Regions from separate parts of the Homo sapiens genome. Here region 2 is linked to region 1. Evidence: fine-mapped expression QTL. A gene starts in region 1. The other region holds a variant in brackets. All regions are shown on one strand. Distances are between the middles of the regions. Region 1 holds the start of ANO5 (anoctamin 5). Region 2 overlaps LOC124902645 (a long non-coding RNA gene).

Region 1 (5,382 bases):
TAAAATGGGGGAGTGTGACTGGGCATTGTGGCTCACATCTGTAATCCCAGCAATTTGAGGGGCCAAGTCAGGTGGATCAGCTGAGCTGTGGAGTTCAAGACCAACTTGGGCAACAGGGTGAAACCCCATCTTCATAAAAAAAATAATAATTAGCTGGGGAGGTCGTGGTGCAGCACCCATAGTCCAAGACACTCCAGAGGCTGAGGTGGCAGGATCGCTTGAGCCTGGGAGTCAGAGGTTTCAGTAAGCAGAGATGATGCCCCTGCATTACAGCCTGGGCAATAGAGCCAGACCCTGTCTCAAAAAATAAAAAAAAAAAAAAAATAAGGGGGGTATGCTTCAACTGACACCATTAAGAACATAGAATGATAACACTCAGAATGGGAGGAAATATTTGTAAATCATATATCTAATAAGGGACTTGTATTCAGAATATATAAAGAATTCTTGCAACTCAATAATGAAAAATACAACTAAATTTTTGTAAACAGGCAAATGATCTGAATAGACACTTCTCCAAAAACGTGAATAACTAATAAGTATATGAAAATACTTGCTACATTAGTCAGTAGAATCAAATCACAATAGAATCAAAATCACACTGAGATACCACTTTACAACCACTAGGATGGCTATAATAAAAAAGACAATAACAAGTGTTAGTGAGTATGTACAGAAATTGGAACCCTCATACATTATTGATGGGAAGGTAACATGCAGATGCCTGGAAAACAGTTTGGCAGTTTCTTAAAATGTTCAATATAAAGCTACCACATAATCCAGCAATTCCACTCCTAGATATATACCCGAGGAAAATAAAAGCATATGTTCATATGAAAACTGATACATCAATGTTCATAGCAGCATTATTCATAGAAGCAAAAGAAAGTGGAAATAACACAAATCCTACCATCGATGAATGGATAGGTATGCTATATCTCTACAACGGAATAGTATTTGGCAATTAATAAGAATGATGCACTGATAAAAGCTGCAGTATGGATTAACTTCAAAAACGTTAATCTACGAGAAAGAAGCCAGTTACAACAGACCACATGTTGTATGATTCTATTTATTCGAATGGTCTTGAATAGGCAAATCTATAGAGACAATAAAGAGATTACTGGTAGGAAGTGGGGAGGATGGGAAGTGACTGCCTAAGAGGTTTCTATTTGGGGTGATGAAAGTGTTCTAAAATTAGATTATGATGATAGTTACAAAACTCTGTAAATACACTAAAAAAAATCCAACTTTACACGTCAAATAGGTGAATTTTACAGTATATAGATTATATCTCAATAAAGCTGCTTAAAAAAGGGAACGAGGAGGATGCAGTAACACACGGTATTTCCCGGTGCCTTTGAAGACTGAATAGTAATGATCAGATCTTTTGTCACTTTGGAAAACTGTTTCTGTGTTTAAATCCAACACTAAACAAGACATGAAAATAAAATATCATTGAAGGAACTGGGGTCCTGGAGATAGCAGCAAAATAGTATGTGCATTTTAAGGAAAATACATGTATTAAAATAGGTCCACGGAATACAGGTGGTGTAAAGGCTTTGGCAAACAATGGATAAATATTTCTCAACGGAACTAAAGGGCTTAATGAAAGCTGTTGAAAAGCAACAGCAGCAGCAGCAGCAGCAGCTTTTCCAAGTGCCTATGGCTCTCAGTATCTCAAACTGATAGATTTTAGGATCTGCTACTCCTACAATTAACAAGCATCTCAAAGCATGATAAGTAACGGGCAGAGAGAGTGAGGTAATAAGACTCAAGGACCAGCTCCTTACACGTGGGATAGCTGTCTTGCACTCTATACTGCTGCTTTTTTTGGGAAAGCCTTCGTTTCCATTGGCTGGGTTCGGAGACCCAAGCACTGCAGCGCTAGCCTAGCAGCCCTGAATTACTCGGCGGTTCCCAGGCCTGCAGGGGAGCAAGGAGGGTGTTCCGGAACCATAGGGGTCACAGGTCGCAGGTCCCTGGCGCGCAGGAGCAGCAGAGAAATCTGTGGGGCGCCGAAACCAACCCCACTCACCCCAGGCGGGGGACTCTGCCCCGCAGTCCCGGTTTCGCGCTGAGCACGCCACGCAGCGAACCTCCCTAGGACTCAGGCCGCAGGGCCGCCAACGTCCCCCGGGGCCTCTGCGCCGCGGGTGGAGGGGTGCAGGCAGCCAGCCTGGCTCTCCCTTGACGCCTCTTGGCGCGGTCCTACCTTCCTCCGCCAACACTTCCAGGAGATCCGGGTCGCCCATCTTCGCCAGCTCGTTAATGGCACTGGTGCCTGAGAGGCAGCAGGAGAGGGGCAGCTGAGACAGACGTGGAGATCTGAGGCAGGTGCTGAATCTGACTGTGGGCCGCCGGAGTTGCTGCTGCTGGACTTCTAAGGGCCTGCTCTTCCTTCTGCAGGCCTCCTTCTCCTCCTCCTCGGACTCCACCGTCTCTGGGCGCCACAGCCAGCCGGCCTTCCTCTCCGGCGGGTACTTCCACTCGACCCGGTCCCCCACAACCTGCTTCGCGCGCTTGGCCCTGCGCTTCCCCACCCTCAGCCGGTAGCGCTCCTGGGCGCTCTCCCAGTACTTCTCCAGGCACCTGTCCCTGTGCCTGCTCGGCAGCTGATCCCGCAGCCGCCACTCCTCCCGGTGCTCGCCAGGATCCTTTCCACTCCTGCCCTCTGGCAGCTTTCCTTTCCCCTTCGCTGCGTCCCTGTTTCCACGCCTCTTTCCCCGCCTCCAGACCGCAAGACCGGCCGGCGCCCCACCCTCGGAGACCGCCATCTCCCCGCCCCCCGGCCCGGCTGGCTCCACGCTGGCCCCCTCCTCTCCGCTCAAGCCGTCCCCAGGTCCCTGCTCTGCCGCCTCCCGCACCTCCTCCGGACATGCAGCCTCCCGTCCCTCCTCGGGACCCGCCGCCCCCCGGCCCTGTTGGCCGGCCTGCTCCATTCTGTACAGGCTTCGCACGTCCTTTTCCACTGGGTCCACCCACGACCAGGAATCCTGGTTCCCCAGGGCTGCCGCTTCCCTCCTGTCGGAATCCTCCTCCTCCGATCCCCAAAGGGGGTCCCGATGCTCCCTCAGCCGGTTGGCCGGGTCTTCATCGATCCGCTCATGCGTGCCACTCGGAGAGAACCCCTCTCCCAGTTGGGAGTTACTTTTGGTCTCGTGGGGAAAAGTCCCTCTCCCTTAAAGGAACCCCTCCCTTTTAAGGCCGGCTCATGGCCCGAGACTCCAAGGTGCCAGCAGCCCCTTCCCCATAGCGTCTGGAGCGGGAGTATTGACTTTTCTCCTGGCCCTGCCTGCTTCCTGGGTTCCCAGCAGGATCTCTGCCCTCTACAGGTGGGGGAAGGTCATCCCTTGTGGCCTGAGTTCCAAGTCAGCCTCTGCCCCTTAAGAGTTGGATAGTGTGGGGCAAGTTTCTCTAAGTTTCAGTTTCCACATATTTAAAGGAGAATGATAATAGTACCCACCTCCTAGGCTGTTGAGAGAAGCACGGTGCACAGTCCTTGCCACAGAATGTGTTAAACATTTAGCTGCTATTAAGATTAACCCATATTATAGTCCAGCTGGGATGACGCCTGTCATCATCTCAGCTGGACGATATCGCTTGAAAGCTCAGGAGTTCAAGACTAGCCTGGGCAACATAGGGATACCCCTGTCTCTACAAAAAATTGGAAAATAGCCAGTCATGGTGGCAGGCACCTGTGGTCCCAGCTACTCGGGAGGCTGAGGTGGGAAGATCGCTTGAGCCCAGAAGATTGAGACTACATAGAGCCACAATCATCCCGCTGCACTCCAGCCTAAGTGATGGAGAGCAAGACCCTGTCTCAAAAGAAAGTAAAGAAAAGAAAAAAAGAAGAGGGAGGAAGGAAGAAGAGAAAAAAAAAAGAAAAGAAAATTAACTCATATTACATTGATCCCTACTCCATTTCAAAGGGTTACTTTGTTTCCCCCCTCCACTTCCTGCCCACCCCAACCAGAACTTTAACCTCAAGCAGAATGGGTCGTTCTACTCCTCACAGGCCCCTCTGCATTGGTTCTGTGTTTTTGAGACCCGATCAACTGCCAACTACACAATAATTGAGAGACTAGATTCACTGTCTAATGGCGGGGAAATAAGACTGATGATGAACTAACAGTGAGGTAGAGGTCTCAGCTGAGAGCCTTGAGTGATGAGGAGGGAGTGACTGTATTAGTCTGTTCTTATGCTGCTAATAAAGACATACTTGAGACTGGGTAATTTATAAATGAAAGAGGTTTAATGGACTCCCAGTTCCACATGGCTGGGGAGGCCTCACAATCATGGCAGAAGGCAAAGGAAAAGCAAAGGTGCGTCTTACATGGGGGGAGGGCAAGAGCTTGTGCAGGGGAACTCCGATTTATAAAACCATCAGATCTCCTGAAACTTATTCACTATCACTAGAATAGCATGGGGGAAACCACCCCCATTATTATCTCCACCTGGCCCTGCTCTTGACACGTGGGGATTATTACAATTCAGGGTGAGAATTATTACAATTCCCTGGGCATGCCACGCAGCGAACCATATCAGTGACTCTGAGTTTAGGATAAGGATGGGGTGATTTGAAAGTTAGGATGAGGTGACCAAAGAAGTCTTGACCTTTCTTCATTTTTCTGCTACTGCATTCCCCTCCCCACCCACCATTCTATTGATATTTCAGAACTGAGAATCACCTTTTGCAGATAAGGAAACAGGCCTAGAGAGAAGTGGTTTGGTAAAGGTTATGATTAACCACGGAACTGGAAATCAGTTTTGCCCCTATACCTTACTTTCCTGCCTATATGTCTACGAATACATGAGCTCTAGTCAAGTGATTTAAGACTATAGGTAGGCAATTCCCTACTTGATGTAATTTGGAATTGTGTTTGAAAGGTGACTATACATAAGCATAGATTTACACATTAAATTATAATGACTAATTGTGATAGAAGTGTTTGGTTATCATCTCTTGATTATTAATCCTTGTTTGGGCTTCTAAGAAAATTTCTACAATATGAATGTTTTCTAATATTTTTCCTGAAATCAGGTATTTTTCTAGATGCTGTGGACATTGTGAGTTAAGAGCTGGGGAGAATCTTTGCTTTATATAGATGAAGTTAAAATAAAGAAAATAAAATTATTTTTCTAGTATTTTATATAATTCCTTGTTTCATGTTTTTTTATTCTGTTCTGTATTTGAAATGATGTGTATGAGAAGACATTATATGTTGATGATTTTGCTCCATACTAAATGAAACATTTTCAGGCTGAATTTGCTTAGATTGTTATCAACATGCTTTAAACTTTGTTAGCAAGAGTTGAAAACCAGCTGTGTCCTTCTAATAAAGGTCTGGGTTGTGACCATAACTCTTTAGATCTTGAGAG
Region 2 (5,382 bases), 38 kb after region 1:
ATATAAGTGAGAGGAGTGGCCTCATTGCTATATAGAGCTCTAGTCAATTCTGACTGTGGATCCCTCACTCTCCTGTATAGAGTCATGTTATGCCAATATTACCTGCAAACTGCCAAATGGGCCAGGTAATAAAGACTAACAAATATAATGCTATTTATGAATTACCCTGAGGATCAGTTCAGATTAAAAAAGTGGAACAGTAAATCCCACAGAGCTGAACACTGGAGAAGAAAAGTTGTTAACTTGGTGGCCTCTGCTGCTACTGTGCCTTCTTGAGGGAAATCTTAACTGATGGAGAAGGGAGTGGAAGAAGGAACCTGAGAAGGTGAATAAGAAACCAGGCTAGTAGGCTGCAGCTGCCGTCTGCTTGCACCAGTGCTGCCTGAGAAGTTTAGAAAAGCCACCTTCTCAGCTACATCTGGAAGCAGCACGGTCTTCTTGAGAATTTCAGGTAGCCAAAGAACTCTGAACGAAGACTTAGAAGACCGGTTTCATGTCTATTAATAATAAAAATAACAGCTTTACCATCAATTGATCACTTAATTGTGCAACAGGACAAAAGCCTTTTGCAACATGATCTCATTTCATGTGTACAGCAACCCTGTAAAGTGAACATTTTTAGTAACTCTATTTTAGAGACAAGAAAACCAAGATTCCCAAAAGTATTAGTGATTTTCCCAAGTTCAGCCAGCTAAATAGCTTTGTATTAGGTGCAGAACTTAATAGCTATTATTTGGGGAAGGGGTGAGAAGAGTATGTTTATCACATGTGTTGTTTATACCTCCTTACACTCTCTGAAAATCCTTTTAATATTTAATGATAAAATCAGATGATGAATTATATCGAAATAGCAGTGAAGGTGGGGAAAAAGTATCAAAAGGGTAACAATTTGAAGTTTCTGTGAAAATGGAGAGGAAAAGACTTCTTGATGTGGAAGTTTGGGAAGTTCCACAAGCTGATTTCTTAGGCACTTGTAAGACTCAGATTTTATTCCCCTAGGTACATTTACAATTCAGTATCTTCTTTTCTTGGTTAAGGTCCTCACACCAGTCCCAGTAAGTAGAGGGTAGCTCTCTTTCACTTCAGCAATTTGTCCTATGATGTGGAAGGGCTTTGCTTATGGAGTCTTCTTAATGCTTCAGGGAAGAGAAGTAGCCACAAATGCTCTGAAGAGATAAAGCGGTTTTCCGCCTAAGTGTATTTGAGGCAGGATTTCTGCCCACAATTACGCTTCTCCCTTCCACTGCCTTCATTTCACTTTGATTAAAGGGATTGAAATAATCTGGGTCTTCACCAAGTCCCAGTTAAAAAAAGAAATTCATAGGTGGTGGTGGGTGGTGACTAGTGCTATAACTAAGTCTTTAAGTAAGTATCTTAAGCTACCTTTCCCAAAATGGATTCCAGGAAATAGTAGTCTCACAAGTTTCACTCCAAACTGAAGGCTCTTTGTTCAAATTCCTTTTGGAAATGCTGCAGTCTTTGCTGATGTCAACAAGAGGCTACTAGCACTTACAGCCAGACAATTCTTTGTTTTCTGCAATTATCCCCAAATATTGCACGTTATTTAGCATCCATGTTCTCTGGACTTTAAATGCAAGTAAAGGTTCTCATCATCATGATAATCAAAATTGACTTAATACATTTATAAGTGATTTATATGATTTGGCTCTGCCCCCCTACCCCCTCAAATCTCATCTTGAATTGTAGCTCCCACAATCCCCACATGTCGTGGGAGGAACCTGGTGGGAGGTAATTGAATCATGGGGGCGGGTTCTTCCCCATGCTGTTCTCATGATAGTGAATAAGTCTCATGAGATCTGATGGTTTTAAAAAAGGCAGTTCCCCTGCACAGGCTCTCCTGCCTGCTGCTATGTAAGATGTGCCTTTACTCCTCCTTCGCCTTCCACCATGATTGTGAGGCCTCCACAGCCATGTGGAACTGTGAGTTAATTAAAACGTTTTATAAAAAAGTAAATTACCCAGCCTTGGGTATGTCTTTATTAGCAGTGTGAAAACAGACTAATACTATGATCCTTGGAGGATGGTACCAAACCTCATTGAGAACTACTGTAGCTATCGCCTTATGCAAATTCCCAGAACACTTGTCATGTTGGTATATTAAAGACTCAGGGAAGAATCTGTTTTCACTATATTGTTTTGTTTTAACTTTTAATCTCCTAGGTATCAGTGCAGGTTTGTTACATAGGTATACTTATATCACAGGATTTTGTTGTACAGATTATTTAATCAGCCAGGTATTAAGACTGGTACCCACTAGTTGTTTCTACCATATTGTTATTCGATTCAGCATATCCTAAAAAATTATAGAGCCTCTTACCCCCTCTCTCTTGTTTTTCTTTAGGATACCAAGTGATATCCCATGAAATTCCCTTTGGAAAATACTACTTTAGCAAGAAGGATGAGGAAGGGGATATTAGAAAGAGCAGAGACATTAACGATTGCCTAATATCTGAAGCCCACTATTTACCCCATGAGACAGATATGGCCCACTTGGCCCTGAGGACTTTTCAAATTTTTGCTTTAGACATGATTACCATTCATGATCTTTCAAGCCGCTGGGACCTAATCATTTATTTCTCTTTGAGAGGTGTCTGGCTAGCTGGCTTGGATATATTAGTTATTGTATTTAATGTTGTTAGTAATTCATTATACAGTTTGAGCTGCTTGGTTTCATTTTATGAACATTTTATCATAAAACAACAAGAAATTCTTAGAAAAGATTTCTGCCATAAGAAAAAATAGACGTGAATAAGGCCCCCATATTCAACTTGCTTATATTTGGGTCATGTATAATTCTCATACACTAACTGTGGACCCTTTGACTTGCTTTTGTGTTTAGTTTAAAAGATTATACTAGATAAGCACACGTACATGGATGCCTAATTACGTAGTAGTCATTAAGGAAAGCAATGCATTTTTCTGTATTCTAAACTCATATTTTGCTAATGGGAGAAACTGGTCCAGAAAATGGTCAGCAGCAGAGATGTGATTTGGATCCAGAAATCCTGACCCCCGGCAAGAATCTTCATACTGCTTCATTTTGTTATCTCTTAATAGAGTAAGAACTACTGAGATGTGGAAAATGAAGATTTGGAATGAGAGGTGGATGAAGGGAAGAAACTGAACTTGAATAGGAGGGCCTTTTAACAGAAAGTTCTCAGAAAATCATTATTTAACCATTCCAGTGTTAAAAAAAAAA[A/G]AAAGTCCATCTTCACCCTCCCCAAAGAAACTCATTTCATGCTAAATATATAAACTTAACAGCTGCTTTGGTGAACCACCAGTGCCTGGCACCTCTATTATCAAGAAGCAGTGAGTCCTGATGGCAGGTTTGGGTTTCTTGGGGGCAGGTAATAACAGGTCAAGGCTTTGCTTTTTACCCAAATGCGGTGTAAAAGGAGTTTTGGGTTTCCTCAATTTCAGCTTGTCGTGGCCAGGTCTAGATAAGATTATATGGTCTTTTCTTAAAAGACCTCAGATATTTCTTTCATCCCATTCTCAGTCACAGTGTATTTTTTCTTCTGCTACTTGACTGATAAAGTTTTTTTAAATACTAGTCTCTCTCTTCTTCCTTGCTGCAGCTATAGAAATTGATTCAGAAGTGAAACAGTACTGTAAGGGTATTCTTTTGATAGTTCATTATTAAGAGGAATCTCTATATGTATTTTTATCATATTTCAGCTCCAAGCGGTAAAAGTAGCTTCATTACGAGCAGCTAAGTTCTAAATTACATATGTCAAAATAACAAAAACACTTAGTTTGCAAGGGGTTGAGGTATAAGGATTTGGAGGAATCAGTAGTGAGTTTTGGAGAAATTGGTACCTGCCCTATGTTTCAAAGCGGAAGTTCAAAACTCAAATGTCTGGTGGAATCTGGGCACCAAACTGTAATGAGTGAAATTGGCTAAGTATACAAAAAAAAAAAAAAAAAAAAAAAAAAAAAAAAAAAAAAAAAAAAACAGCTCATGCCTGATGATAATGGACAACTGACACACCCGGTAAGTGTGAGTCATGGCATAGCAAATACTAGTAACTGTGGCAAATTCTAGTGGGCAAGTGGGCATGCCCCATCTAAGAAGGGCAAACACTACTTTACCACAGCTGTGGAACAATATTGACTCTCTGTTGGCAGCCTTTCAAAGGAAACGAAAAATTCAAATTTTACACATTAGTAACCAATTCATAAAAACAATAAGTGGGTAAACATGTCAAATAGAATGGGCTGAGTCTCACTGGTTCTTAGGTTAAATAAGCTTAGTATTATCTCCACATCTCTCTGCCCTTCCAAACTGGAATCTTCCAATACAAGGCATCATTCTGATGCTTTGTCTCTGGAGTTGGTTTTCAGTGTATAGGTATCCCTACGTGTTTTTTAGCTTGTGAGTCCTAATACTTAAAGAGCCAGCAGGGGGAACCCACAGACTGTGTGACTCAAAACCAAAGGCATGGATTTTTAAAGTTTATACATGGAAAAAAAAAAAGCTATTTTGAGGACCAGCAACCAGCTGCCAGTGGTCTGGTCAGCAGTTTGAGTTGTGACTTTCACACCAACCTTGGTTTTTACTTGTCTAATAAAATATTTTCATACTAATAACTACTTACACAACTGGAAACACTGTATGCAAACTCTTCTCTGGAACTTCCATCAGGATATGGAATGTGGCTTAAATGTTGAAAGTAGAAATCACGGCCGGGCATGGTGGCTCACGCCTGTAATCCCAGCGCTTTGGGAGGCCAAGGCGGGCGGATCACGAGGTCAGGAAATCGAGGCCATCCTGGCTAACACGGTTAAACCCCATTTCTACTAAAAATACAAAAAAAAAAAAAAAAAATAGCCGGGCGTGGTGGCGGGGGCGCCTGTAGTCCCAGCTACTCGGGAGGCTGAGGCAGGGGAATGGCGGGAACCCGGGAGGCGGAGCTTGCAGTGAGCCTAGATCGCACCACTACACTCCAGCCTGGGAGACAGAGAGACTCCGTCTCAAAAAAAAAAAAAAATAAATAAAAATAAAAATAAAAAAGAAAAAAAGAAAGAAAGAAAGAAAGTAGAAATCATGCCCTTCTCTGGATCTGTCTGAATGCTGGTTCAGATAGGCGAGGGAGTGATGTGTCATGCCATATTCATTTATTTTGACATAAAATGGATTTATATCAACCAGCATTTTATTATAAAGATCTCACTATATGTACAGTGATGTATTAAATGTAAAATTGTATAATATTGATTCACCGCCTCCAAACATGTTTAGGGTAATTGTGAACGCTAACACACACGTACACACACACACACACACAGACACTCACACAGAGGGAGAGAGAAAGAGAGAGAGATAAATTGCTAGATAAGTGCAATCTGTCTTGTGGAGAA

The links. PIP is the estimated chance that this variant, and not a neighbour inherited with it, causes the effect. A credible set is the group of variants that fine-mapping cannot tell apart.
Region 2: its variant is the best candidate, but not a certain one, in a credible set for the expression of ANO5 in blood mononuclear cells (TOPMed, PIP 0.50).

Annotation. Positions count from the first base shown.
Region 1 is chr11:22,190,366-22,195,747 of GRCh38, reverse strand. It overlaps ANO5 (anoctamin 5), which reads right to left and starts at 2,663. Exons shown (of 22, transcript NM_213599.3): 1 at 2,216-2,663. The coding sequence starts at 2,255. RefSeq lists enhancers at 1,846-2,035, 2,286-2,375, 3,026-3,095, 3,126-3,185, 3,416-3,505 and a silencer at 2,796-2,845.
Region 2 is chr11:22,151,980-22,157,361 of GRCh38, reverse strand. All of the region lies in intron 1 of LOC124902645 (a long non-coding RNA gene), which reads left to right. Among named protein-coding and RNA genes, the nearest start is that of ANO5, 38 kb to the left of the region's middle. The variant A/G (reference allele first, on the strand shown) is at 3,221.